Regions from separate parts of the Homo sapiens genome. Here region 1 is linked to region 2. A link means that fine-mapping ties the variant in region 2 to the expression of a gene that starts in the linked region. Tissue or cell type: prefrontal cortex. Region 2 holds a variant in brackets; the other region holds the start of a gene. All regions are shown on one strand. Distances are from middle to middle.

Region 1 (2,758 bases), 42 kb before region 2:
GTGCACCTGTGGTCCTAGCTACTCAGGAGGCTGAGGTGGAAGAACTGCTTGAGACCAGGAGGTGGAGGCTGCAGTGAGCCATCATCACACCACTGCACTCCCTCTTGGGCAACAGAGTGAGGCTCTGACTTCCAAAACAAATAACAACAACAAAAAACAATTTTTTAAGAGTCTCATTTTAGTCCTTTCAATTCGTGACACACTTTATTTATTTTTAATTTTTTTGAGACAGAGTCTCACTCTGTCGCCCAGGCTGGACTCCAGCGGCGCAGTCTTGGCTTATTGCAACCTCCGCCTCCCAGGTTCAAGCAATTCTCCTGCCTCAGCCTCCCAAGTAGCTGGGATTACAGGTGCCTGCCACCATGCCCGGCTAATTTTTGTATTTTTTAGTAGAGACAGGGTTTCACCACATTGGCCAGGCTGGTCTCGAACTCCTGACCTCAAGTGATCCACCCACCTTGGCCTACCAAAGTGCTGAGGTTACAGGCGTGAGCCACCGCGCCCAGCCTGTGACACACTTTAAATGAATTCAGGGTTGACTCATACACAGCACGCCTGGTAATAACATTGAAAACAAAGTCTCCTGCCCAAATTCTAACAGTTACCACCACAATGCAGAGCCCTCTCCTGAGAGATAATCATTTCTGTACAGTTAATGATGAAAGAGTGACGCTTTCATAACAAGACCAATGATGGTTTCTGTTCCCTCTCAGTCCAAATCCAGTGTCCGTCTCCTCCCAAAACAATAGGTTATCCTCTGATCAACGCTGACAAAATGAACCCTGTAGGAAACACACAAGTATGGCGCATCTCTCAAATCTTAGCTCTTTGAAATGACACCAGGCAGCCGACTCTGAATCACAGCTACATTTTAATCCATTTTCCGACACTCCAAATGCTCTAAGCTATTTTCTGTATAACCACTGCCCTCACGGCGGGCAGCCTGAGAGAAAGATCGTCGCGTGAGGGGGTACCTTGATGGGGGTCCGGGCTCTGCTACAAACTGGCTAGGTGAACTTGAGCAAATCCCTCCCTCTCTCGGAGCCTCAATCTCATTAACTCCAAAGAGAGACAGCTGGACTCAGAAGACCCCTCAAGTCTCCCACATTTCTAAGAATCTAACAGCTGGGGGTCACAAGGGTAACCAAGACTCTAGCCCCATAACATATTGTTTTGAGATTACCTAACCTAACCCTCTAGCTTCAAAGACTAAGATCCAGAAATGAAAGTTGCCTGACACTCAATCTAGTGTCCTTCCCACAGGACATCATTCCTTCTACGAAAACGAACACACGAGAAAATGGCATCTGAACATCTGAAAGCCCTGCCTCGACTCAAGAGACGGGCAGGTAGCCTATTTCATCTGATTTTTGTCCCTCGTGAACTTCCACCTAGCTGGAAAGGGCAAAGCGCGAGCTTCTAGGCCACACCCTAAGTAAATCCGGACCGCCCTACGCAGGAGCAGTCGCACCTGCTCCTAAGCTCGAGGTGAAGGTGGCTCCGTCTCCACCCGAGCTCGCCTCAGAGCGAGCCCGCGACACAGAAACATCTCTCTTCAGACCCCAGCTTGGTCCAGGTTGCCCCACGCCCCAAGGTAGTCTCTCCGCGCTGCTATACCTGCTCCGCCACGGCGCGACCCCGTGCAGTAATCCCAGACATCGGTGCCCCACGGACGTCGCCATCTTGTCTGCTCCTTCTCAGCGTGCCACGCCCCCTTCACACGCTGGGCGCACGCTTAAGGCGTCACGAGTCTCGAGTTCAGTGGGCCAATGAGAAAAGCGCGGGTTGGGGGCGGAGCCGACTAAGCTCCGCCCTGTGGCTACTCCCCACCTAACCCGCTTGGCACCTGCGGAGGTAGGGGAACTAGTGGAGCTGTAGGTTTCGCTAAACCTGGGCTTGGTCGCAGCACTGCCACTCCTCCTCCTTCCCTCTGGGTGCCTTTCCTCATGTACCTGGAAAATCTGAGTCATCCAAGATCCAAGAATGTCGTTTCAAGTGATCGAACTTGCTCATTTTACGGATGGGGAAACTGGGCATCCATGACTCAGCTCTCGTTTTTTAAGCGCCGGAGTGTGTTGTGAGCACTTTGCAAGCATGGTGTCATATCATTCTTATCTCCTACCGCTGTGCTGCCAGGGAGACCGGGGGCAAACGGTCTTGGATCACCTAGAAATGCAACCAGTCGTTAAATTCGGTGCCTGGTGCTTGCTCTTGAAAAGGTTCCTATCTTCAATTGTAAGAGGAAAACGAGTTTTCAATCATGTCTGCTACTTTTTACTGAGCACTGACTAGAGACTCGCAGCTAGGCCCGAGACATTATCCCCATTTTAAAGATGAGGTACCTGAGGCTCAGGAAGGTTAAGCAACATCTTCAAGGGTACATAAAGGGCATATGCCCAAAGACTATAAAATAGTGAAGCCAGAATTTGAACATACGTCTCTGACTCCAAAAACCATGTCCTAAACATCTTCTTCTTTTTTTTTTTTTTTTGAGACAGAGTCTCTCATTGTCGCCCAGGCTGGAGTGCAGTGGCGCGATCTCGATTCACTGCAAGCTCCGCCTCCCGGGTTGACGCCATTCTCCTGCCTCAGCCTCCCGAGTAGCTGGGACTACAGGCGCCCGCCACAACGCCCGGCTAATTTTTTTATATATATTTTTCGTAGAGACGGGGTTTCACCATGTTAGCCAGGATGGTCTCGATCTCCTGACCTCGTGATCCGCCCGCCTCGGCTTCTCAAAATGCTGGGATTACAAGCG
Region 2 (2,758 bases):
ACTCCCAACCTCAGGTGATCCGCCCACCTCGGCCACCCAAAGTGCTAGGATTACAGATGTGAGCCACCGCATCTGGCCTTATTTATTTTTTGAGATGGAGTCTCACTCTGCCGCCCAGGCTGGAGTGTGGTGGTGCAATCCAGGCTCACTGCAACTTCCACCTCCTGGGTTTAAGCGAATCTACTGCCTCGGCCTCCAGAGTACCTGGGATTACAGGAATGTGCCACCACATTTGGCTAATTTTTGTATTTTTAGTAGAGATGGGGTTTCACCATACTGGCCAGGCTGGTCTCGAACTCCTGACCCCGGGTGATCCGCCCGCCCTGGCCTCCCAAAGTGCTGGAATCACAGGCGTGAGCCACCGTGCCCGGCCTTTTATTTTTTTTTTAAGATGGGGTTTCACTCTGTCACTCAGGCTGGAGTGCAGTGATGCAATCTGGGGTCATTGCTGCAAACTCTGCCTCCCGGGCTCAAGCAATTCTCCCTCCTCAGCCTCCCGAGTAACTGGGACTGCAGGTGTGCACCACCACAGTCAGCTCATTTTTGTCTTTTTTGTAGAGACACAGTTTTGCCAGGTTGCCCAGGCTGCTATTGAACTCCTGGACTCAAGCGATCCGCCCGCCTCAGCCTCCCAAAGTGCTGAGATTACAGGCGTGTGCCACCGTGCCTGGCCCCTGCTGTGTTTTAAGCAACTACTCCCTTCATATCATCAAAACAAGAATTGTACATTCAGTTCAGATATTGAGACTGTCAACATGAAAGTTTGCAACTGTTGAAGACAACAGACGTTGCAAAATTGAACATCATCACCATCCACTCATCTTCTTTGAATGCACAAAGCAGCTCTTTCGTCCAATTCTCTAAACACTGTTACATGCTGTTGGCAAGAAAAAAGTATCTGGAAAACAATGCAGATTAAAAAATCCACTGTGTCCTTTACTGGCCAAGAGAAAAACTCCTGGCTTAGTACTCTCCAGAACTCGGCTGACACTGAAGGTGGTACGTAAAGATACTCAGAAGCCAGTCTGTAGCTATAATGCGATGTGAGTTGACAATGGCCACCTCCAATGCCACCATCATCTGACCCAACCAGCACTTTACACTTACCTCTTTCTGTTCTGGGGGGCTGCTCTGTGGGCAGGGGCATGCTGCTTTCACACCATCCAGCTCATCCAATCCACGAACCTGGAACTCAGAGGCTGAAAGCAGGAGCTTGCTGACAGCTGATTCTGCTACCAAGCAAGACTTTGGTACCAAGGCAGGGAATGGAGGCTCCAGCCTAGCACCATGAAGAGAAAGAAGATATGAGAGGGGTTCCCTTTCTACTTCCAGCACATTCAACTTCTTCTTCTTC[A/AT]TTTTTTTTTTTTTTTTTGAGAAGGAGTTTTGCTCTTGTTGCCCAGACTGGAGTGCAATGGTACGATCTCGGCTCAATGCAGCCTCTGCCTCCCGGGTTCAAGCAATTCTCCTGCCTCAGCCCCTCGAGTAGCTGAAATTACAGGCATGCGCCACCACGCCCAGCTAATTCTGTATTTTTAGTAGAGACGGAGTTTCTCCATGTTGGTCAGGATGGTCTTGATCTCCCGACCTTAGGTGATCCACCCGCACCGGCCTCCCAAAGTGCTGGGATTACAGGTGTGAGCCACCACGCCCAGCCTCAACTTCTTAACATCTAGGCCTCAATACTTTTTCTTTCTTTCCAGAGAATAATATATCCAGTCAACCTGCATTCTAGTCACTTCCAGACATAGCCTGTATCTACATATGTAAAAAAATTACAAGAATGTGTAATCCATTTTATTGCTATGGAATTTTATAAGGAAAAATGTAAAAAGGAACAGACTTTTTGGGTGAGGAAGATATCTGGTAAACCGCACAAATGAACAGTACTCAGATAAGATCAATCCTGTCCAGGGACTGAAGTTGGCTGTTAAGACATGAAATAGCTTGAGAGGGGACTTCTGGTACAATAAGCTGGTTAGTGATTTTCACTTTTTTTTTTTTAACAAATTGTATTATTACACATTCCTAGTTGCTGCTTGTAATAGAACAGATTTCAATCTCAGAAATGTTTATCTGAGAGACATAGATCAGGTTTACAAGGACAAGAGGTCAAAGTCATGCCACAGACGATCCACACCACCTATGTATGCACTCTCTCTCTTGCACACACACACGCACACGCGCACACACACGCTGAGTCTCATGTGCTTACCTCGTCTGACTGCCGCTGGTGTTATATGTAGCTTCCATGCCTGGAAGAGGCACATATGGTAACATGGTGTGGCTAAAGTAAAGCAAAAGTACAAAAGCAATAGGTAAGGGCAGTGGGATAACAGGAAAGGTTTTGATGTTATTGTGGGTATTAGCACATGATAGCCCCAAGAAGACAAGAAATGTCAGTTACTCAGAAAGAGGAAAGCTTTCCAACCAGGAGAGTTATATTTATGTGCCCATCACTGGAATGGAGGCAGACTGACAGGAAGATTATTTTCTAACTTGAATGGAAAGAAGGCAGAGACAGAAAGAAAGAACAGTGGCTGGGCAAGGTGGCTGATGCCTATAATCCCAGCACTTTGGGAGGCTGAGGTGGGCAGATCGCTTCAGCCTAGGAGTTCAAGACCAGCTTGGGCAACATGGCGAGACCTTGTTTCCACAAAAAATACAAAAATTTAGCCAGGGGTGGTGGAGTGCACCTGTGGTCTCAGCTACTCAAGAGGCTGGGGTGAGAAGACTGCTTGAGCCCGGAAGATCAAGACTG

Direction of the effects. Alleles are on the strand shown, and positions count from the first base shown. SD is a standard deviation of normalised expression in the study named.
For the expression in prefrontal cortex of the gene that starts at base 1,689 in region 1, allele A in region 2 goes with a lower level than allele AT (moderate effect, 0.47 SD a copy in BrainSeq).

Evidence for each region. PIP is the estimated chance that this variant, and not a neighbour inherited with it, causes the effect.
Region 1: it holds the start of PISD, and the variant in region 2 is fine-mapped to the expression of PISD in prefrontal cortex (BrainSeq, PIP 0.95).

The regions. Positions count from the first base shown.
Region 1 is chr22:31,660,527-31,663,284 of GRCh38, forward strand. PISD (phosphatidylserine decarboxylase) reads right to left here and starts at 1,689. Exons shown (of 8, transcript NM_001326411.2): 1 at 1,618-1,689. The coding sequence starts at 1,682. RefSeq lists enhancers at 1-420, 421-1,314, 610-749, 723-1,922, 1,140-1,189 and 1 more.
Region 2 is chr22:31,702,443-31,705,200 of GRCh38, forward strand. It overlaps PRR14L (proline rich 14 like), which reads right to left. Exons shown (of 9, transcript NM_173566.3): 5 at 2,213-2,284; 6 at 1,108-1,279. Among named protein-coding and RNA genes, the nearest start is that of PISD, 42 kb to the left of the region's middle. The variant A/AT (reference allele first, on the strand shown) is at 1,355.